2 separate regions of the Homo sapiens genome follow, and region 1 is linked to region 2. Evidence: fine-mapped expression QTL. A gene starts in region 2. The other region holds a variant in brackets. All regions are shown on one strand. Distances are between the middles of the regions.

Region 1 (15,951 bases), 220 kb after region 2:
CGGGTATTGTCCAAGGTTTCTCCCCGCCTGTGATAGTCTGAAATATGGCCTCTTGGGATGAGAAAGTCCTGACCGTCCCCCAGCCCGACACCCATAAGGGGTCTGTGCTGAGGAGGATTAGTAAAAGAGGAAGGCCTCTTGCAGTTGAGATAAGAGGAAGGCCTCTGTCTCCTGCCTGCCCCTGGGAACGGAATGTCTCGGTATAAAACCCGATTGTACATTTGCTCAATTCTGAGATAGGAAAAAAAACGCCCTGTGGCGGGAGGCAAGACATGTTGGCAGCAATGCTGCTTTGTTATGTTTTACTCCACTGAGATGTTTGGGCAGAGAGAAACATAAATCTGGCCTACGTGCACATCCAGGCATACTACCTCCCCTCGAACTTAATTATGACACAGATTCTTTTGCTCACATGTTTTCTTGCTGACCTTCTCCCCACTATCACCCTGCTCTTCTGCCGCATTCCTCTTGCTGAGATGGTGAAAATAATAATCAATAAAAAGTGAGGGAACTCAGAGACCGGTGCCGGTGCAGGTCCTCCATATGCTGAGCGCCAGTCTCCTGGGCCCACTTTTCTTTCTCTATACTTTGTCTCTGTGTCTTATTTCTTTTCTCAGTCTCTCATCCCACCTGATGAAATATACCCACAGGTGTGGAGGGGCAGGCCACCCCTACACTGATGAATTAATAAAGTTGCGTATATTGGCGAGGCACACCGGCTCACTTCTATAATCCCGGCACTTTGGGAGGCCGAGGCGGGAGGATTGTTTAAGCCCAGGAGTTCAAGACCAGCCTGAGCAACATAGCAAGATCCTGTCTCTAAAGAAAAAGAAAGGGAGTATATTTATACATGGAATACCACTCCACGATAAAAGAAAAGAACTACTGGTTGAATTTCAAAAACACAATTGACAGAAGCCAATCGCAAGTTATTTCATTTATATAATTAGTACTATCATATTAATTTATAATTTGTATTATTTCATTCATATTCTAGAAAATGCAAACTATAGCAACAGAAAGCAACTCGATGGTTGCTTAGGAGCATGGATCAGGACGATTGACTGCAAAAGGGCTTGAGGGAATTTTGGAGTGATAGAAATATTGTAAAACTCCACGTGGTGGTGTTTGCATGTCTTATACATTTACTCAACGTGATCAAACTGCACACTGAAAATGGGTGAGTTTAGGCCAAGCACAGTGGTTCACATCTGCCTGTAATCCTACCAATTTGGGAGGCCTAGATGGAAAGATCACTTGATCCTAGGAGTTGGAGACCAGCTGGGTAACCTAGTGAGACTTCGCCTCTACCAAAAATAAAAAATAAAAAAATTTAAGTTCTCCAGCCATGGTGGCATGTGCCTGTGGTCCTGGCTACTTGGGAGGCTGAGGTGGGGGATGGCTTGAGCCCAGGAGGTGGACGCTGCAGTGAGCTGTGATTGTGCCACTGCATTCCAGCCTAGGTGACAGAACGAGACCTTGCCTCAGAAAAAAAAAAAAAAAAAGGGTGGGGGGAGGTAAATTTAATTGTAAGTTATTTCACTATAAAGCTGTTAAAAAATAACTATTAAGTCTAAACAGTAATCCTGGGAATGTATATTGGGAAACTATATTGTACCTCTGCAGAACTGAAAAACATACAGAGACAGGCATGCAGCCGGTGTTCAATAAATGCTTTCAGAATGTAGTGGAAACATTATGCACCAGTGTTTATTGAAAGGAAAGTCTCCCTGCTCTCTCAAGTTCAAGTCAGCCCAGGTTTAACATTATCCTTGTCTGCCACCTGGTGGCCCAAATGGGCAAAGTGGGTGTCCTGGTCTTTCGCTCCAAACTTCAAAAAGCTGTAGTTGGGCTTAAAGGCCGTGGATGGAAAGAAGGGAGACTTTCGCCCTGGAAATCCGGTGCCCCGAGAGGCAAGTTGGTCAGAGGTAGGGGTATAAGGGGATTATTAGGGTCTATGGGACTAGAATACAGCCTCTTAATGACAGAGGGAATATACTTTGGTGAAACCAAGAGGCCGATTGAACACAATTGGCCACCTTTGCACACTGAGATAAAATATGAGGAGGATTTTTGCGAAGCCAGGAAGGAGAAAAGTTTAGGGACAACAATGAGGTAAGTAGGAAAATAATCATATGGACACACATGGTGAGTTCGGGGATGCTCAGGGGGCTGAAAGGTTGGCAAGGGAATTCTGAAAGGCCAGAGAACATCTCCCTGGGTGGAGAGGCTCCTGGGAGCCAGGGAACAGGAATCTCTTTTCTTAGATATGCCTGGACCTTTGGACCCTCAATCCCACTTCCGGGGCACACCCCACAGGTAAACATCTTCGCGAGTGTGCTACGATCCTGTGAGTAGGGGCCTTACAGTGTCTGTAGAACCACTGAGAAGAAGAGCAACCTTCAGGAGACGGCCACTGAGGAATCGGCTTGGCTTTCCTGGCAACTGTACAGGAGGCCCAGGCTCAGGGGCCTGTGGACAAGCCCAGTCTTGCTTCTTACAAAAATGGGTTGAGTCACCTCTGCAGGACACAGATAGGCGAGGAGGTGGCTTGTTTTTGTTTGTTTGTTTTTGTTTTTGTTTTTAGATTGAGTCTTGCTCTGTCACCCAGGCTGGAGTATAGTGGCACAATCTCAGCTTACTATGATCTCCGCCTCCAGGGTTCAAGCAATTCTCCTGGCTCAGCCTCCCAAGTAGCTGGGATTACAGGGATGTGCCACCACGCTTGGCTAATTTTTGTGTTTAGTAAAGACAGGGTTTCACCTTGTTGGCCAGGCTGGTCTCGAAATCCTGACCTCAGGTGATCCACCTGGCTTGGCCTCCCAAAGTGCTAGGATTACAGGCATGAACCACCGCACCTGGCCTGTAAAGGTGGCTTGTTTTAAATGTCAATGATAGACGACATTTAGTGGGACAAAAGGGGAGTATAGGAACTTTTACATTTTCAGTAGTTGGTGACCTTGGTGGCTGAAATCTGGGAGCTCTAAGTGCTATGGTTTAAATGTTTGTATTGCCTCAAAAATTTGTATGGTGAAACCTAATCCCCAATGTGATGGTGTCAAGAGGTGGGGACTTCAGGAGGTGAAGGGGATTAGTGTCCTTACAAAAGAGGCCAGATGGAGCTTGTTTTCCCTTTCCTCCAGGGGAGCACACAATGAGAGGCTGCCATCTATTAACCAGAGAACAAGTCCTTGCCAGACAGCAAATCTGCTGACACCTTGATCCTGGACTTCTAAGCCTCTATAACTGTAAGCAATACATTTCTGTCACATGAAGGCACCCAGTTTATAACATCAATCTGTAAAATTTTTTTTTAAGTTTTATATCAGTATAGGAAACTTTTTTTTTTGAGACAGGGTCTTGCTGTATTGCCCAGGCTGGAGTGTAGTGGCACAATCACGACTCACTGCAGCTCTGACCTCCCAGGCTCAAGTGATCTGCCCGCCTCAGCCTACTGAGTAACTGAGACTACAGGTGCGTGCCACCACATCCAGCCAATTTTTGAATTTTTTTTTTGTAGAGATGGCGTTTCTCCAAGCTGCCTAGGCTAGCGTCAAAGTCCTGGGCTCAAGTTCAGGAGGCCCACCTCGGCATCCAAAAGTGCGGGGATTATGGGCATGAGCCACCGTGCCTGGCCGAAACCGGTAGTATTTATTTATTTTTTTTTTTGAGACAGACCCTCGCTCTGTCACCCAGACTGGAGTGCAGTAGTGCGATCTTGGCTCACTGCAACCTCCGCTTCCTGAGTTCAAGTGATTCTTGTGTCTCAGCCTCCTGAATATGTAGGATTATAGGTGTGCACCACCAAGCCTAGCTAATTTTTGTATTTTTAGTAGAGACAGGGGTTCACCGTGTTGGCTAGGCTGGTCTCAAACTCTGGGCCAGCTACTCAGCTACTCAGGAGGCTAAGGCAGAAGGAATTCGACGCTGCATGAGCTATGATCCCGCCTTTGCACTCTAGTCTAGGCAACAAAGCAAGACCCAGTCTCCAGAAAAAACATAGTGTGACTGCTGTGGGGATCAGGGAGGGAGGAAGTGATGGAAAATTGCCTAACAGAGAAAATCAGTCCTCTTAATCGATAAAGAATTTCTACAAACAAAGAATATGTCATGTATACAACAGAAAAAGTAGCATAAGAATGTGTTCAGAATAAGCACTACAAATCAGTGTCTCTCAAATAAACGAAGAGATCTTTAAGTCATTCATAGTAAGAGAAATGCACATTGAATTCTCACTGTGATGTCAACCACTCATTTTGTGGTATCCCAACAAGCAAGATAATCAGACGTTACATATTTTCTATCAGAAGTATGCAGCACCACATGTGAAGTGGTCCTCCAAAAAACAAAACAAAATAAAACCTAAAACCCAAATCTGATTATGCCTCTAGAATATAAATACAAGTTTACACAGTAGACAGGGGATAGAAGAACTGTTAAAAGACACCACCCGGATGCAATCAGCAAAACCTAAATGGTGGGATCCTCTCCAGAACAAATAAACTGGTTTCTTCCACATGCAACAAAATTTAGAAAGAAAATTAAAGAGAGGCAGATGGTAAATCTGAAGACTGAAAGAGATTCAAGAAACACATAAAAATGACAGATAATAATAAGTGTTGGTAAGGATATGGAAAACTTGGAACTTTCATACATTGCCAGGGGAAAGGAAAATGGTGCAGCTGCTTTGGAAAACAGTCTGGCAGTTTTTCAGGGGATTAAACATGGAGTTGCCATATGACTCAGCAATTCCACTCCTAACTATAAAGCCAAGACAATTGGTGGGGCATGGAGGCTCACGCCTGTAATCCAAGCACTTTAAGAAGTCAAGGTGGGTGGATCACCTGAGGTCAGGAGTTTGAAACCAGCCTGGCTGACATGGTGAAACCCTATCTCTACTAAAAATACAAAACTTAGCCAGGCGTGGTGGCATGTGCCTGTAATTCTAGCTACTTGGGAGCTGAGGCATGAGGATCCCTTGAACCCAAGAGGCAGAGGTTGCAGTGAGCCTGGGCAACAGAGTGAGACTCCATCTCAAAAAAAAAAAAAAAAGAGAAAAAAGAAATATCTACTTATTTGCAAAGTATGAACGTTATTTGAATCCTGATTTAAAAAAAAACTTGTATTAATACAAGTATCATTTATAAATACTAAAGAACACGACCATATATTTGATTAAATTGAGAACATATTATGTTGTGGAAATACACACATACATATATATGTTCCTTTTCTTTAGTAGGACATGATGAAAACTTTACAGATGATATGATGTCTGGGATTTGTTTCAAATAATGATGCAAGAGAGAGGTGGCCATCCGGAAAACACCAGGTTATATTCAACCTGAGAAAGCTGATTTAAAACAGAAACAAAAACAAGATCTTTGTTATTGCTGAAGACGGACAATGGGTATGTTGGATTTCTTATACTACTGTTTCTACCTCAGACTTGGCTCATCCTTTGGTGCTGTGCAGCCCTTGAGCAGGCTTGACCCTCTCTGTGCCTCAGGGAGGTTCACCTGCTGTTCTTATTCCCACCAGCTCCCACCTGCCTGGCACTTTCCCTTTTGGAACCTCAGGTTCTGCTTCTGTAGGATTTGGGAAATCTGAGCCCAGTTTCATAATAAAAAGTCAGAAAACAGGTCAGTCGCAGTGGGTGACTTTGGTAATCCTAGCACTTTGGGAGGCCGAGGTGGGTGGATCACTTGAGGTTAGGAGTTCGAGACCAGCCTAGCCAACATGGTGAAAGCCTGTCTCTACCAAAATATATAATATATTTGTCAGACACACATATGTTTATAATATAATATAATATACATCTAAATATTGGACTCCGTCTGTTGCCCAGGCTGGAGTGCAGTGGTGTGATTGCAGCTCACTGCAGCCCCCACCTCCTGGGCTTGAGATCCCCCCATCTCAACTTCCCAAGTACTTGGGAACACAGTTGTGTGCCACCATGCCTGAGAGTCCTTTTTTTTTTTTTTTTTTTTTTTTTGGTAGAGACAAGTCTTGTTGCCCAAGCTGGTCTCTAACTCCTAGCCTCATGTGATCCTCCCATCTCTGCCTCACACAGTGCTGGGATAACAGGTGTGAGCCACTGTGTCTGGCCCAAAATATTTCAAAAGGTAGCCATCTGTGAGGCCAGGCAGATCTTCCTGCTGGGCTCCTGGTGAATTCTAGAATGTGATCAAGGGCAGGCATGGGAGGAAGCCCTGCAGGAGTGCACCATGGGGCGAATATGGACTCCACCTGGGCAGATTAAATTGGGAAAGGGTCGGGAGAGGCAGTCAGATCATACACTTAGGAGAGTTTCAGGTGAGAGGACCAAAGGCCAAAACACTCCCGGAGCTTCGAAAAGGGCCTGGAGAAGCCTGGCAGGCACACAGAGCCTTCACCTTTGCCCTGGAAGCCAAGTTGTGCCCTTGCCCAGGATGAGGTAAATGGCGTGAGGGACACCACGAGCTCTTTGGCTCTTGTTTCTGGAGACAGATTTTTGTTTTTTCACCCAGGCTGGAGTGCAATAGTGTGATGAAGGCTCACTGCAGCCTCAACCTCCCCTACTAAAGTGATCTCCCACCTCAGCCTCCCAAGAAGCTGGGACTAGAGGTCACAGGCCACCACAGCCCATTAATTTCTTTTAATTATTTTGTACACTCTGAGTCTATGTTGCCCAGGCTGGCCTCCAACTCCTGGGATCAAGCGATTCTCCCCCTTGGCCTTCCAAAATGCTGGGATTAAAGGAGTGAGCCAATCGCACCCAGCCACTGCGGCCTCTTAGATCTGCTTTAGGATTTGGAGCCTGGGGGCTTCTGTTCCCCAAGGACCACTAACCTTGTCTGAGGCCCCTTTGGAGGGCTCAGCGCGCCCCCTTGGCCAAGGACGCCACACATTGAGAGCCAGCTGCTGCCAGAAGCTATTACTGTTATTACCGGCCGGCAGCACAGGCTACAGCCACAATCGTAAGAGGGAAATGGACTGAATCCCCACACCCCAATCCCTCACTCACTCCGACCCGAGGCTGTCTACCCGGCCTGGCATGTCCCGGCGCTCCTGGGGCCCCTGTACTCCGCTGGTTCCTCGCTGTGGTGTCCCGCAGCCCGACCATTTCTGTGCTTCTAGGAGCCCACCCTGGGCGGCAGGGAGGCGTTGCGTGGGGCTCACGAGTTCCACGCTGTCATCTCCACCAGCTCCTACCTCCCAGGCGCCTGCCCTCCCGCACTGTCAGGTTCTGCCTCCGCAGCATTTGGCAGATCTGAGCCCGGTCCCTGTCACCCCTCCGCGGGAGCCTCATAGTGACCCTGGAGGAGAAGCAGCAGGAGCCCACAGGCCACCGCGCTCGGCCGCGCGTGAAGTCTGTGCAGCCGCATGGTCGGCTCGCTGGTCTCGGTTCTCTGCCGACGGACACGCTGCTGTTCACCCAGAGGCTGCCCCGGGTCGGTCCAGCCGTGGATCCAGTGCCTTGCCCAGCCTCGGAGTTTGGACTGGGCAGGGAGTCGGCGGGGTGCGCTGACTTGGGCCGGGAAAGGTGGGTTGGTAGGAGAGCAGGACTGAACAGTCATAGGTGGGTGGGGATCTAGTGGTAGGCAGGCCCGGGCACGGCCACTTCCCTTCTGCCCGGGCCCCTTTGGCATCCTCAGAAGGGGCTGCGCGGCTTCTGTAGTCCTCCGCGATCCAGAGAATCCTCTCCTCAAACCTGTCGTTGTCCACAGGCCCGATGAGCGCGCTGGGGGATCGATAGGAGGGGGCAATAAACTAGAATTGGAGATCCCAAGAGGGCTTCTCTGAGGAGGTGCACGTTCAGGATCCCCACAGTTGGAGAAATGGGAAGGAACTTGATCGGGGTGAAGGAACCGCTTGAGCAAAGGCAGGGAGGCGTGACGGCGCCCTTCATTCTGGAAGCTCCTCCTTGCTTTCAGGACTCAGTTTCCTGGGTTCCCCTTCACGGCCCCTCATCTCCTTACAGTCCAGGGTCTGAGGGTCTCCGCGGTCCCCTCCCTACTCAGTCACGCCATTCTTTTGAAACGTACACGTGACCGCGGCACTTCTTAAGGAGCGCCCCCCTTTTCCTCGGTGGCTTTCAGTTTCCTCACCTCCCGCGGAGACCAGGGCCATGGTCATTTATCCTCTTGACGAACATTTCACGAGCGCCTGCCGCTCCGAGCGATGGGGACCCGGCACTCCCAGGCCTCTGTTGCAGCAGGGGAGGCAGGCGCGTCACCTGGAGGTCCCGAGACACTGGGAGCCCTGCCAGGCCAGAGGCGACCAACTGGTCTGGGAACGGGAGTGTACTATGGTCCTGTAACTATGGGCCTTACAGTGTCTGAAGCCCGGAGGTGGAGGCTGCAGTGATCTGTGATTGCACTACTGCATTCTAGCCTGGGTGACAGGACTAGACCTTGTCTCAAAAAAAAAAGGGGGAGCAGGGGGTAAATTGTAAGTTATTTCACAATAAAGCTGTTAAAAAAAGAACTATTAAGTCTAAACAGTAATCCTGGGAACTGACTTTGGGAAGGTATATTGTACATCTGCAGAACTGAAAAACATACAGAGGCATGCATGCAGCTGGTGCACAATAAACGCTTTCAGAATGTAGTGGGAACATTATGCACCAATCAGTGTTCATTGAAAGGAAAGTCTCCTCCCTCTCTCAAGTTCAAGTCATTCCAGGCTTAATATTATCCTTGTCTGCCACCTGGTGGCCAAAATGGGCAATGTGGGTGTCCTGGTCTTTCACCCCAAACTTCAAAAGGCTCTGTAATTGGACTTACGGGCCCTGGCTGGAAAGAAGGGAGACTTTCCCCATGGAAAACGGGTGCCCTGAGAGGCAAGTTGATCAGCAGTAGGGGCATAAGGGGATTATTAGGGTTTATGGGACAGAAATATAGCCTCTTAATGACAGAGAGAATATACTTTGGTGAAACCAAGAGGCCGATTGAACACAATTGGCCACCTTTGCACACTGAGATAAAATATGAGGTTTTTTGCAGAGCGGGGAAGGAGAAAAGTCTAGGGACAACAATGAGGTAAGTAGGAAAAGTAATCGTGTGGACACACATGGTGAATTTGGGGATGCTCAGGGGGTTGAAAGGTTGGCAGGGAAATTCTGAAACGTGAGAGGACATTTCCCTGGATGGAGAGGCCCCTGGTAGCCAGCGGACAGGAATCTCTTAGCAGGTGTGCTAATATCCTGTGAGTATGGGCCTTACAGTGTCTGTAGAACCACTGAGAAGAAGAGCAACCTTCAGGAGACGGGCGACTGAGGAAGCAGCTTGGCTTTCCTGGCCACTGTGCAGGAGGCCCAGGCTCAGGGGCCTATGGACAAGCCCGGTCTGGCTTCTGACAAAAGTGGGGTTAGGCACCTCTGCAGGACATCGATAGTTGGGTGGGTGGCTTGTTTTATTTTTTATTTTTGAGATAATGTCTCGTGCTGTCGCCCAGGCTGGAGTATAGTGCTGTGATCTCAGCTCACTGCAACCTCTGCCTCCCAGGTTCAAGTGATTCTCTTACCTTAGCCTCCTGAGTAGCTGGGATTACAGACACCTGCCACCACACCCGTCTAATTTTTGTATTTTAGTAGAGATGGGGTTTCACTATGTTGGCCAGGCTGGTCTTGAACTCCTGACCTCAGGTCATACCCCACCTTGGCCTCCCAAAGTGCTGGGATTACAGGTGTGAGCCACCGCACCTGGCCTGAGGTTGCCATCTATTAACCAGAGAACAAGTCCTTGCCAGACACCAAATCTGCTGGCACCTTGATCCTCGATGTCCAAGCCTCGAGAACTGTAAGCAATACATTTCTGTCATTATAAGGCACCCAGTTTATAATATTAACCTGTAGTATTTTAAGTTTTATATCAGTATTGGAAGCCCTATTTTTTTGAGGCAGGGTCTTGCTGTGTTGCCCAGGCTGGAGTGTAGTGGTGCAATCACGACTCACTGCAGCTCTGACCTCCCAGGCTCAAGTGATCTGCCCGCCTCAGCCTCCTGAGTAACTGAGACTATAGGTGTGTGCCACCACATCCAAATAATTTTTCTATTTTTTTGTAGAGATGACATTTCTCCATGCTGCCTAGGCTGGTCTGGAACTCCTGGGCTCAAGTTCAGGAGTCCCACCTCGGCCTCCAATAGTGCTGGGATTACAGGCATGAGCCACTGCACCCGGCCTAACCGGTAATATTTATTTATTTGTTTATTTATTTATTTACTTATTTTTGAGGTAGGGTCTCTGTCGCCCAGACTGGAGTGCAGTGGTGCAATCTCAGCTCACTGCAACTTCTACCTCCTGGGTTCATGTTATACTCGTGTCTCAGCCTCCCGAGTAGCTGATATTCTAGGTGTGCACCACAGAGCCTGGCTAATTTTTGTCTTTTTAGTAGAGACAGCGTTTCACCATGTTGGCCAGGCTGGTCTCAAACTCCTGGGGTCAAGTGATCCACCCACCTCGGCCTCCCAAAGTGTTGTGATGATGGGTGTGGGCCACTGCACCGGGTCTAATCGGTAGTATTTTTGCTATAGCAACTGAATGGACTAAAACACTAGGAATTCCAGTAACCAGGTTTCCTATTGGCCACTCACAGATTTTTTTTGTTTTTTGTTTTTGTTTCTTTGTTTGTTTGTTTGAGACTGAGTCTCGTCCTGTGGCCCAGGCAGGAGTGCCGTGGTGCAATCTCATCTCACTGCAACCTCTGCCTCCCGGGTTCAAGGGATTCTCCTGCCTCAGCCTCCCTAGTAGCTGGGACTACAGGCGTGTGCCACTGCACCAGGCTAATTTTTTGTACTTTTAGTAGAGACGGAGTTTCACCATGCTAGCCAGGATGGTCTCGATCTCCTGATGTGGTGATCCGCCTACCTTGGCCTCCCAAAATGCTGGGATTACAGGTGTGAGCCACCGCACCCGGCCTGGCCACTCACAGATGTAAGAGCACTTGGGGCTTGGGGAGAGGCAGACAGAGGCTTTTTTTAGAATTTATTTTTATTCTTTCAGACCTCTCAGGGATGAACGGACATAGGCTTCTAACACTTAGGTGTGGGCAACATTCTTCGAAGCACCTCCCTCAAAGTGGAAAAGGCCTGGGGGCTCAGACGAGAGAAGAGAGAAGGCAGGGAGAAGGTGGAGGTGAGGAAGGGAGGAGGGGGCCCAGGGCTCAGTGGGGTGTTGGGGAGGGTGGGATTCCACCGGGGTTTGCCCATCCACAGCTCAGTGGGGGGATCTATGGAGTGTGTCTAGCAAGAGAGGACCCATGGCAGGCTTGGTAACTAACATCATGCAGTAGCTTCTTCTATTCTCTCTTATTTTTTTGGAAACGGAGTCTCGCTCTTGTTGCCCAGGCTGGAGTACAGTGGCACAATCTCAGCTCACTGCAACCTCTGCCTCCCAGGTTCAAGTAATTCTCCTGCCTCAGCCTCCTGAGTAGCTGGGATCACAGGTGGGCACCACCACTGTGCCCGTCTGATTTTTGTATTTTTCATAGAGATGGGGTTTCACCACGTTGGGCAGGCTGGTCTCAAACTCCTGTCCTCAGGTGTTCTGCTCACCTTGACCTCCCAAAAGTGCTGGGATTAGGGGCATGAGCCACAGTGCCTGGCCTATTATTCTCTTTTTATTTTTATTTTTCTCATATTTTTCCCTTATATTTTGTTTTCTTTGCTTTTTAAAAATCTTTTTTACTCCTCACTGACTTGAAGCTCAAAACTTTCCTATTTAGCTTCTAATCACACACTCTCTCTTTTTTTTTTTTTTTTTTGAGAAGGGGTCTCACTGTGTTGCCCTGGCTGGTCGGTCTCAAACCTCTGGCCTCAAGCCATCCTCCCATCTCATCCTTCCCAATAGCTGGGATTACAAGTATGGGCCATCATGCCTGAGTAAATTCTTAATAAATGCTTTCTGAATGGATGGACGGAAGTATGAATGAATGGCGAAGTGAATGAAGGAATCAACTTCTTTCTCCTTAGTGGGTGTGTGTGGGCACAGCAGGCTGACCCTCGCCTGTCAGCGAACCCACCCCCTCCTCCCCGGCACAGGGAGCTACAGCTCTGTGTGTCTCTCTTCAGGCTCCTCGAGCTCCTGGATCTTTTGGGGCAGCGCCTTCTTCCAGAACTGGAGCCTGTGGGCCTTCAGAGCCCGGCCCACCGCAGGCTGTAGGTTCAGCTGCAGGTATTGCTCCTCCTGGTCGAACAGCGGCCAGTGTGGCAGACCCTCGCCATTGGGGTTCCTGTAGACATGCCATCCCAGCAGGGCAGTATGAGGGTCACTCTGGGCCCCCGAAGCCCAGACCTGAGCACCCTGAGTCTGGTCAGGCAAGGCAGCCAAGCAGGCCAGGTGGGCTTGGGGAATGAGTGGGGAGGCTTCCAGAAACAGGAAATAAGCTCCCTCTGGCTAGTGTCAGCACCAGTGGGGGTTGGGGGAGGGCAGCCAGCTCTGTTGTGTCCCTCTCTCTGAGAGGGAGGCCCTGACGGTGGCACAGCACTGGCGCCCACCCTCCAGGTAGACTGGAGAGATAGAGCGTGTCCACTGCCCCA[C/T]GCACCCCCACCCTGTCTGAGTGGGTCCCGGAGCTGGGGAAGGGGCCATCATGTGATGAAGGATGCGGGTGTGCTCATGAGGTCACCCCAGACTAGGAGAGCACTGGATGGGCACAAGTCCCCCAATCGGGGAGGTTGAGGCAGGGGTGTGCTGTCTCACCCATTTCTCGCAAAGTTGGCCCAGTACTTCATCATCTTCCTGCTTAGCTGCTCCTCTTCCTCAGTGAATTTAACTGCCAAGAGGAAGAGGACATGTGTCTTCATCAGGATGTCCAACCTCAGCATCCCAGGTGGAGCTCGTCCTTGGCCCCCGAGACCTCGGTCCCCAGTCCTGCTTCTCCGCTTTTTCTTCCACTGCCCTCAGAAGCCAGCCCTCCCCTTTTCCAAACTTTCCCTGTAGACCAGGCTCTGGCTGACTCCATCCTGGGCTCCTTCATGGCCCCAAAGGCCCCTTCTTCCTTCTATCTCTGGGAGTCACTGAAGAAATAAACATGTCCCTGAAACACCTGTTCTGCACCAGGCCAGACACCCATGGCTGGGGAGAGGCAGAGGGAGCACAGCTCACAGTCTGAAGAGTCGTGAATTCTAATCCTGGTGCAGCTTTTGGAGCTATAAAACCTTGGACACCTGATCTCATCCTCTCTCTGAGCCTCAGTTTCCTTATCTGGGCAGTGAGGACAATCAATCATCGCTCAGAGACCCAGCCAGAATCCCAGCCCACCTCCCGGGAAAGGAAGAAGACTCACTGTAGTTGCCCCCAAAGAAACTTCTGAAAACAAAAGGAAGCTCATCACCATGGTCTGCCTTCATGTGCGGTGGCCTGATGTTCTTGAGCCAGCTGGGCTGATGCTGGAACTCGTAGAAGTACACAGGGGCCCGGGAACCTGTGGGGTGGACAGCCCATGACACGGTGGCCCCTCCCCCTGAAGACTTCTTGCCTCACCCATGGTGATAAGATACCTAGGTCCAAAGCTGGCTGGAATCTGGACAATGGGGTGTGGAGCCCCAGGCTGGGGCAGGAATAGAGGAAAGGACTTGCGATTCTTTGCTGTGTCATCTTGGGCAAGTCACTGAAGGTCCCTAACTTCAATTTGCTCGTCTGTGAAATGGGGGAAATGTCGGATTCTTGGGCTAGCCATGAGGATTTACTGCAATGATGGATGTCAAGTGTCCCCGGAGCCCAATAAACATGAGTGCTGACCCGGACAGCAGCAGGTCTCACCTGGGACCCACAGCCCTGAGCTGTACCCTGCCCGCCAGGCTTTGGTCCAAATATACTCACACTGAAAATGTGCTACTTGGAGTGCAGGGATCACAAACATGGAGTCCGCCATCATCTCCTGGAACTGCGCTTGGAGGGTCTGGGGATCCCCATTGTCCCCAATGTACTCCTCCCTCAGCAGGTCACCAAATGTAGGAGGCAACATCTACCCCAGGTGGATCAGGAAGAGGCAGGTTAGACTGGATGCCAGGGGCAGGGAGGAGGTGGTCTCGGGCTTGGGGATGGCACAGGAAGGGGGAGCAAAGGCGAGGCTCTGAGGTGACCCCACCCCTAAACACACACACCCAGGCCTTTGCTCATGGGGGTCACTACATAGGAAGGGTATCTGGGGGTTGAATTTCCTCTGTCTCAGGACAGGAGAGGAGCCCGTCTCCATTGGCGAGGGACCCCAGGAGCCTTACCAGCAGCGTTAACATTTTCTGCAGAGCAGCCTGGGAGGCCTCTCTGTCCATTTCCTTCTGGGTATCATAGATCCTCATGACCTGGATGGCCAGGAGAGAGTCTGTAGCTGGGGATGGGATGAGCCTGGAGCTATGAAGCCCTGAACACCCCCCACTACCAGATGGGCTCCCCAGGCACTTGTGGGCTTGGGTTGGGGCTCACCTTGGGGATGAGCCAGCCGAATTCATTGTTGTTGACACCAACAATGCTAGGGACAGGCTGAAAGTCGGCAGAGGCCAGCAGCTCCTGGGGGTGCCTGGGCAGGAAGACCCCATCCACCACTCCGGGGATCATCTTGAAAGGCTGAGGGGAAATGTAAGGTCAGGGAACAAGGTCAGGTCCCAGACATCTTCCGATGCCCTCTGAGTACCTTCCACTCCTTCCCAGTTTATCCCTGGATGCTCATACCCACCCCAGGAGATTACTGTTTGGCTCAGCATGCACCGACCTTCAGTCCCGACCCAGGGCTATGACACTCAGGCATGCAGATGAGGTAATGTGCCCAGGGAATATGACGGCCGTGCAGGCCTGCCAGCCCCATGCCTATTGCACCCCTTCCTCTACACCCACATCCATTTAGACCAACCTTGTTAATTGCAAGAATCTCCTCTTTACTCTTGCCCCGCAGGCAGCCCACCAGGGCCTCAGAGTCAACTTGGTCACAGGCAGACAGGTTGGCCACCACCTGTAAAGGGACCAGGCAGGGGCTGGCTCATCCTTCCAGGTAGAGGAGAGGAGTTTGCCCAAGGCCCTGGCCAAGAACAGGGGTACCCCAAATCTCAGAGGGTACTTCGTATGAGTTCCTGCAGTTCTGACACTGTTCCAACTCAGAAGTCCCAGACACAGGGGCCATCCCATCCGCCTAGATGATTCTCCTCATGGTGGGGATCCCTAGGGTGACAACTTTGCACAGGAGCCACAGAACAAGCTCGGCCTCTGCAATGGCAGAAGGATGTGAATTCTGACCCTGGAGCCCCCCAGCAATTCCACGGTAGGCAGCAGCTCCTGGAGCATGCTCCCGATGGCCCTTGTCATCCCCGTTTAACAGACAGAGGCTCTGAGGGATATGAGGGGAGGGAGCAGGCCTAGGCCTCTTCAGCTGAGGGCACTCACCGTGGAGATGACATCAGCTGAGCTGGCAATGAGGCCGGGCAGGAGGGCCACGCCACTCTCCATGATGGCTCCGTGGAAGAGTCCTTGGGATATGGGGGACACAACAAGCGAAGACACACTCGTGCCACCCGCAGACTCGCCAAAAATGGTGACACGGTCAGGGTTGCCTCCAAAGTGGGCGATATTCTGCTGGACCCAGCGTAGTGCAGCCACTTGGTCCAGGTAGCCCCAGTTGCCGGTTGCGTGCTTGTCTCCAGTGCTGAGAAGTAGCAGGGACAGGGATCACAGGGCTGTCCTGGCCCCGCTCAGCCCGGGTTGCCCAGCCCAGCCCTAGTCTCACCTGAAGAAGCCCAGGACACCCAGGCGGTACTGGATGATGACCACCACCACGTTCTCCAAGGCAGCCAGCATGGAACCATCATACAAGGAAGCCATGCCAAAAACAAGCGCACCACCGTGGATCCACACCATCACCTGGGGAAATCAAGGCAGCTACCATGATGCTCCCACCCAGCCCAAACCCCACCAGGGCCACTACCTAGACCAACCAGTGCTTTGCCTCTGTCTACCTCCCCATTAGATCTCCAGCACAAATT
Region 2 (9,341 bases):
CCAGGCAGAAAAACCTAGGATTGATGCTGATACTCCACACCCAGCTTGCAGACAAGTCCTTTCCAGTCTGACTGCTGAATATTTCTCTCACCATCCTCACCACTTACTAAGTCCAGCCTTCTGCCTCCTGCTTTGGCCCTGCAGAACCCAGGATCAGAGCTCCCTGCTTCCATACTCTATCCTCCAGTCCCCTCTGAACCCAGAGCACAAAGTGCTGAGAGCCTCCCTGCCCCTCTCCCCTTACCTTGACCCTGATATCCAACTTTCCAGGACAAGCCCCGCCTCTACACCCTCCCACCAACACCACCACCATAGTGCAACCCCAATGTAGTCTCCTGGCCCTTCCTGGTCCCCTGATTCCTGAGCAGAGATACCAGAATCTTCTTCAGGCCTAGCTCTGACCAAGATCTCTTGACATCACCTGAGACCCACCTGTCTCCCTACTGAAGCCCTAACTCCTAATGTGACTGTCTCTCTGCTGACCCACCTGGCTCCCTGCTGACCTGGGAATTACCTACAGACATTTGTTGTTTGATCTTGAAGTACCCAAGGCCTAGCTCATACAGGATACCGACAAATACTTGCCGAACTTGGACTGATTTTCCTCCATGGATCGCACTATTTTGAGAGACTTTTTTTTTTTTTTTTTTGAGATGGAGTCTCGCTGTTGCCCAAGCTGGAGTGCAGTGGCGCAATCTTGGCTCACTGCAACCTCCGCCTCCCAGGCTCAAGTGATTCTCGTGCCCAGCCTTTTTTTTTTTTTTTTTTTTTAGAGGTGGGGTCTTGCTATATATATTTTTTGTATTTATTTATTTTAGTGGAGACGGGGTTTCACTATGTTGGCCAGGCTGGTCTTGAACTCCTGACCTCGTGATCCACCTGCCTTGGCCTCCCAAAGTGCTGGGATTACAGGCGTGAGCCACCGCGCCTGTCCTGGTCTTGCTATATTGATCAGGCTGGTCTCGAACTGCTGGCCTCAAGCAATCCTCCCATCTCAGCCTTCCAAAGTGCTGGGATTACCAGCACTTTGTGAACCACCATGTGAACCACCATGCCTGGCTCTTGAGAGACTATCTCTACCAACAGCGGCTATTAGGGAGAGTCAATCTGCTTTATCCATTTTTTTTTTTTTTTTTTGACAGAGTCTCACTCTGTTGCCCAGGCTGGAGTGCAGTGGCACATTCTCTCATCACTGCAACCTCTGCCTCCTGAGTTCAAGCGATTCTTCTGCCTCAGCCTCCCGAGTAGCTGAGATTACAGGTGCCCGCACCACGCTCAGCTAATTTTTTGTGTTTTTAGTTGAGACGGGGTTTCACTATGTTGGCTAGGCTGGTCTCGAACTCCTGACCTCGTGATCCACCCACCTTGGCCTCCCAAAGTGTTGGGATTACAGGCATGAGCCACCGCACCCAGCTGCTTTGTCCATTTATTGTCAACCAAGGATTATGGCCCATTCCTGTGAGTGGCCTGACCCAGCCAGCAAGACCCCCGGCATTAGGAGGCAAAGACATCAGGCCTTGAACCATGCCCTCAGCCCACCCCCACCCTGATAATAACTTCTTCTCCTCCCCGCCTTGGCTTTGTTCACACGGCATCCTCCCATCTCTTCTTCCCTTTGCTGTCCCTCCTCTGCCTCCTTCTCTGGCTCTAGGAGGCTCGGCCTTCTCTGGGAGAGAGGATTTAGTCCTAGCCGCCATCCTGCCTCCCAGGTCTTTCTCAGTACCCTCTGGTGTCACACTATACCTCCCCCGTCACTTCACACCCTGGCTTCCTCCCATTGAAGCCCTTCCCCACCAGGCCGAGACCAGGACTACCCCCTGCCCCTCCATCTCCCTTTATGTCCCGTATGTGATGAATCTTGCTTCTCCACTTCTCAGTGAGTCTCCATCAGCTCCTGCCTTGCCACCCCACCATCGTCACCTCATGTCCTGTAACAGTCCCTCTGAGCCCCTCTCACTCCCATTCTGCCAGGCCCGATAGCACAGTGACTTTGACAACCCTCTGGGCTAGGATTGCTGTTCCCATTTTACAGATGAGGAGACAGGCTCAGAGATTCAGTGGTAAAACTGGAATCTTACTTGCTCCAGCCTGAACTATGAGGAACTGAACTATATTTTCCTGTCTAGCAGAATTCCATCCTAAATACCTATCTACCTCCCCCCCACACCCCACTGCCCATCAGAGACAACCCAAAATATCTGGTCTGGCTACTCTAGCCTCCTCCCACCACCCTGGACAGCCAGGCCCTTCCCAGCTTCCCTCCACCAGCCAGGGATCGGAGAACTCACTATGCCTCTGGCACCTCGGAGCCTTTGCTGATGCTGATCGCTAAGACTGGAATCCTTTTCTCCTCCCTCCGCTCCGTGGACCTATCCATCGTCCAGGACTCAAATGTTCCCTTGTCTACACCAATGCCTAAGTGTCCCAAGGGCTGGTGGTTCCTTCTTCTGTGTACCGTGAACAACACATGCCCTCACTAGTGCATTAACTGACATCATTGCACTGTGTACACGCAGACTCTCCGCTTTCTTCAACTGAGTTTTCCAGAGTGTCCCTCCAATCGGTGGGCAAAGGAAGGGAGAGGGGGACAGCACCTACTCGGGACAGACACAGGGAGGGTGCAGATTGGATTGGCCCCTCCTTCTCTCCAACCTAAGTTGTTTTCATGTTAGCCGCCTCCTCCTATGACCCCAAGTCCTGCCCTTTATCCTGTCTGGGGGTAGAGACTCCAGCTGGTCTGGGCCCTCCCTTTGAGGCTCACACAGCTCTCAATACCGAAGTTATTTAGCGGCCAGTCCTTCGAGGGTGACAGGTCCGATTCTTCCCAGAGAGCCAGGTGGCGGGGCACGGAGCTGGGTCCCAGCCCCCAACCCCACCTCGCTGCGCGGGCTCTTTGGCCAGGAAGCCAGGGTCTTGGGACAGTGAAGAGCCTTTGCGCATGTGCGACTGCACGGATTTTCCCCCCCCGCCCCTTACCTCCCTCCACCCAGTCCCAGAGCTTGAGAGTCCTGCGGCAGGGCGGGGCCCACAGTCCTACCCACCCCGCCCCCCCGACCCCCGAGCGCCGCAGCGGGTGGTGGGGCGCTGATTCTGCCCAATCTCGGTTTCCCTTCCCTCCCACAGCCGGGAGTGGGGCTCCCGGTCTGGCCCGTTTTGGGCGTCCCCACTCACGGGTCAAGCCTCGGCGGGGCAGGAGATGACGGTGCAGAAAGGGCCGGGCAGGGTGGGGGTGGGTGCAGCAGCTGCGGCGGGGGCGGGGCGGCCAGGGCTGCTGGGAATAGGGAGGGTGAGGGTTCTTCCCCGGGCACTAGGAGCCACACCGCGGAGGCCGCGCGCTGGCTGGGGACGTGCATGTAGTCAGCTTTCCCTCCCCACCCGGGGCGCACCAGGAGATGAGGCCAGGAGGGGGCAGTTCGGCCCGCGGCCCCACACGTCCAGCGCCCACTCAGGGCCTGCCAATTTCCAGGTGCTTTCCATCTATCTTGTCATCGACCCCTCTTCTCTGCCTGTCACAGAGGAAGTTCAGAGAAGGATACCAACTCACCAGGATCACAGAACGCATGCATTGCAGAGCTGAGCGCGACCCAGAAGCCCCCGCTTCCCAGAGATTGCAGCGGCCCCGCGCCAGCCCTGGACCCGGGCCTAAGCAAGGGAGCTAGGCACCGGATCCCCAAGCACCTCCACCCTCCTGGGGTTCCTCTATTAAAAACCTAGTATCTGGACGCTTCTACAAATGCAAAATCACCCCCCACCCATAACTCCTGTGCTCCCTGGTCGATAGAGAAAAGAGACCAGAAACAGAAAAAAAAAAAACGGAGTTTATGTGCAGGGATAGTCGGGGTAGTGGAGAGAGGCCATTTAGTAGTGGGGGCTTCGCTCACCCCCGATAGGGGGCGCCAGGAAGCCAAGAAGGATGTGCAGCGGCGGACTGGTTCCAAGCCCCTTCAGAGGCGCGGGGTCTTAGGGGGAGGGACTGGCTTCCGGGCCCAAGTAGGAGGCAGTCCGGCTCTCAGGAGTGCTATAAATGGTTAAAGCCCCAGGCAGGCCCAGGGCTGGGCCTCCCAAGGCCGCCTGGACATCCAGCAGGAGTGGGGCCCCGAGCGTGGGGTCCTTCCCTAGGAGAAGTGGGACTGCGCTCACCAGGGGAAATGTTCCCCCTCCTTTCTTCAGGGAAGGAGAGCCCTGCCCGCCTGCCTTCTGCTCAGTTAGGATAAAACATCCATTCTTAACCTCCCCACTCTCGCCCAATGGTGAGGGCATGGGTGGCTCAAGGAACGCTCTGCAGTGCAGCCTGAACTCAGGATTTCCCTGCAAATTGCAGATTGCCCCCTCACTCAATCAAGGTAGCTCAGCCCAATCACGGCGTCCTCCCAGGTAGGAGTCATCACAACCATTACCTGGGCTTGGAGAATTTAACCCCTTGACCGCCAGCTCAGGCTCACCCCGCTCTGGAACCAAGGGCTGCATCTGCGTGAGAACCGCAGGGAGCAGCTGGGGAGGGGACCTAGCAGCTGAGGGGGACAGCTGGGAAATCACTGTGACAATTCTTCTAGAGACACGGCTTTGGCTCACAGAGAACAGCTATGGACCAGAGGGCTTGACTCAGCCACCCCTGGCCTCTGCCCTCCCCGACCCACTTCTTACCAAGGACAGCTCCATGTCCAAGTCCATCAGGGTCCATTCTCGCCCTTGGAGACTGGGGCCCAGCACCTGAGGAGAGCTCTGGGTCAGTGGTGCCCTCCCCAGGCTCCACAGAGAGCTAGACCCCACCAGGTCTCATGCCCCTGTTTCAGCAGAAGGGGTACTCACATCTAGAGGCCCTGCAGGTTCCACACTTTCTTGAGGGGGCTGAAGCAGCATCGGAGGCAGCAGACTCTCTGGGCTCCTGTCCCCGCTTTCCAGGCCCAGAGGCCCCCTGTGCAGACAGAACTGCTTTTGGCCTGCAGTGTCCACCCCGCATTAAGTTCCCAAGGAACCCAGATGCATCAAGATTTTAATCCCCCAATCTTTAGAAAATGATAGGAGAGGATCCCCATCCTCTCTCCACCCCCAACCTCCCCACTCCTGCCATAAATGGCACAGAGAAAGTGCCTCTGCTTCCTACCTGGGACCTGAAGTTTGGGTGGTGGAGCTGGGGCTTTGGGACCCTTCCCCTCCCTATGCAAGTATCAATATCCATGCTTCTTTCTCTTCTTTCTTTATTTCTTTCTTTCTTCCTTTCTTTTTTCTTTCTCTCTCTCTCTCTCTTTCCTTCTTTCTTTCTTTTCTTTTTTTTGGAGACAGTTTCACTATGTCACCCACTATGTCACTATGGCACTGTCTTGGCTAACTGCAGCCTCCACCTCCCAAGTTCAAGCGACTGTCCTGCCTCAGCCTCCTGAGTAGCTGGGACTACAGGCAAACGCCACCACACCCAGCTAATTTTTGTATTTTTAGCAGAGGCGGGGGGTTTCACCATGTTGGCCAGGCTGGTGTTGAACTCCTGACCTCAAGTGATCTGCCCGCCTCAGCCTCCCAAAGTGCTGGGATTACATGCATGAGCCACCTCATAGCCACCAATGCTTCTTAAACTATTGTGTACTTTGCAGTCACCCCAGGGAACTCATTTCATATGTAGGTTCCTAAGCCCTTCCGCAGATGCTGAGTGCCCTGACTGGGAGGCTCTGCTTTCCACAGAACTCTGATGCTGGGGCCAAGAAATCAGGTGAGTATCATGGAGTCAAATGGCTAGGAAGCTTTGTGGGCTGGTAAGGGCTGTTCTATCACAGGGCTCATGGGCCAGCTGGGGCTCTGCTCACCTGTCAGGTATCTCCCTGGGATCCCCTGGTTCAGGCTGTTGGGCATTCCTGGGCCCCTCGGGGCTGAAGCTCCCTTTCCCTTCCAGGATGGCCTGCACCACAGCCACAGGCAGTGGCGGGGGGGCTGTCACGCAGAAGTCACACTCGTTTGGGGCCAGGGCCAGCCCGGCCTCGCCATCCCCCCCTGGACTGGCCGGCTCTTCTTTGAGCAGTGCCAGGCCCTTCTCCCTGCACCAGAGAAAAGCTTCAACCAGACCCTGGCACTGACTTCTCCCTCTACCCCTACAGCCATCTGGGCTGCCAGGCCCTCCCCCACAGGCCCCTCAGGGGCAGCCCTGTCCCCCTTACCTCCTGCCATCACTGGAGGGAGAAAGCCTGGTCCCCTCAGGGGATGGAGAGTCTTCTGGGATGTCAGAGATGATGGGGCCCCTGGCCCTGTGAGGGCTAAGGCCCAAATTTGTCTCTGGGAGAGGCTGTAAGTAGAAGGCTAGGCCCAGCCCTTGGCCTGTAGGCACAGGGAGAGCCAGAACCCCACCAACACCCACCTGGGCCAGGTCTAAGGGAGAAGGTTTGAGGGAGGAGGCTCAGTCCATGCTGGAGGGCCTGGGTCTGGTTGGGGGGAAGGCTGGCTTCCATCTTCTCTTCCTTTTAGGGGATGGGGAGAAGGAACAGGCTCTCCATAAGCCCAGCCATGCCCTTGGGAAGGGGGAAGAAGACAAACCTACCGACTGGATGAAGTAGGGGTCCTGCAGAAGGGCACCAGGTAGAGGGCAGGTGTTGAACTTGGCAGGTGTTGGGCATGAGCTCCCCTCATCCAGCATCAGGGACCTGTGTGGTCGATCAGGGCACAGGCAGGGGTGGGGCAGGGTCAGCCCCCATGCACCTCGGCCTGCACTTCCCTCCCTCCCTCAGGCCCCAGCAGCCAAGTCAGCAGAGCTGAGGCCTGTTGCTAGGGTGTCAGTCACATGCTGGAGGTGGAAGGGGCTCCCCCTAGAGATGGGGGCCCTTTGTGGGTAGAGAGGGGAGGGAGGGAACCTGGTTTGAGCCCCAGGGTCTCAGCTGTTGGGAAGCCTTGCCGGAGGGGGAAGGGGCTGCTGGGGTAGGAATTTGGGAATAAGGTCCTGGAATGGGAGGATCTGGGAGTGGGGATACCAGGTGGCAGAGTTGGGGGGAAGTGGATCCTAGATGGGGTGAGGAAGCCTGTAGCGCAGGGGGAGGAATGAGGATTCCCGGTGAAGGAGTTTCCAGAGGAGAAGGGGTCCTTGCAAGGGGACTTCTGGGGGGTCTTGGAAGTGGGTGTGGGCCTTCTTGGCTTTCTCACTCACAGCTTTCTCTTGCCTCCTGCATTGCTCGGCCCCGCCTGAAGTGGCCCAAAGAGACACTGGATCAGCTGAAGAGAAAGCAAAGGTTTAATTCATACTTTGGACACAGCCCCCCCACCCCCGCACTTCCAGGTGAGGGAGGAAGGCTTAACAGGGGCGCCGGGGGACTGGGCGGTGGAATGGGGTGTCGAGGAGTGGGAGGGAGAAGCGAGGCTTGGGGAGAGGAACACCTTGCCAATGACCCGGTGCTGCTGACCGTGGCTCTGCCGAAGTGTCACCACCTCCCGCCACAAGATCTCGTTCTGCCTGAGGAAGGGGTGGGAGGGTGCTGAGGCATCTGAGAGTTCGCCCAGTCACCACCCCCCACAGAATGGCGAGGCTGGGGACCCAGGAGACCACCCCGCTGACTGGCCATCCCAGAGATCGCCCATAAGTCTAGATGGAGGCGCCAAGGCAGGAGAGAGGAAGGGGCTGCCCAGAACTGCTGGCCGGCCAGTTATGGTCTCATCCCGAACCCCCCACCCCTGTCCCCTCTTTCCCCGCCCGCCCCCGCACTGCCTGAGCTCCCGCAGCCGCGCCTCGGTGCTCTCCTGCACTCCCCGCAAAGCCTGCACCTCGCCCAGTAGTCGACCCAGGTCCTCCGGGCGCCAGCGGCCGTCGTCGCCGCGCAGCGCGGGCACCTGCAGGCGGGAGGCACCGTCGGGACTGGGTCGCAGGAGCAAGGCAGGCAGTCCCAGCACCCCTCCTCCTCTTTGCTCATTCCCGCAGGCCGCCCCCACCTTGCGCCGCACGCGCTCCAGTAGCTGCTCGCGGCCGCGCACGAAGCTCGGGTGCTGGAACTCGACGTGGTCGCGCTCCGGCCTAAGCAGGCCGCCCTGCTCGATGCTCACCACCTTCCGAAAACCGTCTGGGGAGTGGGGCGTGGGGGCGTGGGTCGCCCCATCCCCGGCACCGAGTCCCCCATCCCCGCTCCCCGCCCGGCCGTAGGGACTCACACATGTTGAGTTGGCGCACGAAGCTCGCCATGTTGCTATGCTTGAAATACTGGGGCAGCACTTCCTTGGCGAAACGGCTCTGGTCGCTTACGAGGAAACTGGTCCCGCTCTACCAAGAACGCCGCCCGCCCACCGTGCGGGCGGAGACCAGGAGGGTGAGCGGTGCCCGCTCACGGCCAGTCCTGCGCTCCAGCGCGCGCACACACTCATGCTCACTCTTGGGTCCAGGCCTGCCGCTTACGGGGATATGGGTCGAGGCCAGGCCAGAACGGGCTCCGAGGCCTAGCCTGGAGCGACCACAGTGAGTCCCTACCCCCAGCCAGACCCTGACTCCATACTCAGTTCTCAGAAAGGAGAGGCTGACGGGGTTCCCAGCCCCGCAATGTGACCCTGAGCTAGACCAGCCCTTCCCATCTCCCGGCCTCTGTTTTCCCATCTGTCGGATGGGGTAGGGTGGGAACTAAATGGCCTCGAAGGTCCCTCGGACTCTAGGTCTTCAGAAGGCAGGCTCCTAACCCTTCTTCGGCCGCAGAGGAAACCCCCCTCTCGCACACCCCCTCCAAGGTGAACTTCTCTGAATGGCCAAATCCGGGGATCCACGGCCCAGTCTCAGGAGGGGGTTGGGCGGGCATGGGTGTTCACTGACGTGGAGGGACCCCGGGACCACAGGGGGAATCGAGGGGCCCCGGCCCTCACCGGGCTCCAGCGGATCAGGTGGTCTGTGCCTGGGTCCCCCACCAGCGCCCATAGCTTGCCGAGGAAGGCAGGCACGGGGCTGGGGCCTGGCTCCGTGGGCAGCGCAGCTGGCGCTTCCTGCATGGTGCAGTCTCGGCCCGGCTCTGCGCTCGGGCCCGGCCGCTGCGGGCTCGTCAAAGCCGCGGAAAGTGCTGCGTTTGCCGCCCGCTCCGCCCTACTCCGCCCCGGGGCGCCGGGTCAGGCGGGGGCCACGTGCAAGCCCGCGGGGCGGGGCTCGGACAGCGGCCGAGGCACCAGCAGGCAGAAAAGGCTGGCTGGATGGGATGTGTGGAGTGGAGTGGAGTGGAGGGGTGGGGTGGGGTGGAGTGGGGTGGGGTGGGGTGAGATGAGTGGGAGACTTGGGTTCGAGTCCCACCCCTCTCGGTCCCTCTATTTCCTTCTTTGTTCTACAGGAGAAATCGCCGGTGCGCGACCTGGTGTGGGCTGGGCAAGTCCTAGAAGGTAATGGCCAGAGGCACAGTGAAGCCCCA

Evidence for each region. PIP is the estimated chance that this variant, and not a neighbour inherited with it, causes the effect.
Region 1: its variant is the best candidate, but not a certain one, in a credible set for the expression of NOL3 in whole blood (INTERVAL, PIP 0.55).

Annotation. Positions count from the first base shown.
Region 1 is chr16:66,940,100-66,956,050 of GRCh38, reverse strand. CES2 (carboxylesterase 2) reads right to left here. Exons shown (of 12, transcript NM_001365405.1): 4 at 15,696-15,829; 5 at 15,356-15,614; 6 at 14,829-14,927; 7 at 14,405-14,545; 8 at 14,203-14,283; 9 at 13,802-13,946; 10 at 13,266-13,403; 11 at 12,680-12,752; 12 at 10,955-12,212. The coding sequence ends at 12,026. LOC107984881 (a long non-coding RNA gene) reads left to right here and starts at 1,852. Exons shown (of 4, transcript XR_007065090.1): 1 at 1,852-1,928; 2 at 3,144-3,248; 3 at 5,240-5,410; 4 at 7,120-7,171. RefSeq lists silencers at 4,199-4,399, 4,399-4,599, 5,445-5,494 and enhancers at 13,735-14,934, 14,994-15,493. The variant C/T (reference allele first, on the strand shown) is at 12,520.
Region 2 is chr16:67,164,405-67,173,745 of GRCh38, reverse strand. It overlaps NOL3 (nucleolar protein 3), which reads right to left and starts at 3,208. Exons shown (of 4, transcript NM_001276309.3): 1 at 3,172-3,208. It overlaps HSF4 (heat shock transcription factor 4), which reads right to left and starts at 9,001. Exons shown (of 13, transcript NM_001374675.1): 1 at 8,812-9,001; 2 at 8,116-8,224; 3 at 7,900-8,027; 4 at 7,676-7,800; 5 at 7,351-7,426; 6 at 7,124-7,188; 7 at 6,524-6,626; 8 at 6,147-6,271; 9 at 5,799-6,026; 10 at 4,810-4,915; 11 at 4,645-4,710; 12 at 4,398-4,467; 13 at 3,805-4,115. The coding sequence starts at 8,934. The coding sequence ends at 3,961. RefSeq lists enhancers at 1-241, 3,462-3,611, 4,102-4,151 and silencers at 1,158-1,321, 2,962-3,251, 8,897-9,136, 8,886-9,180.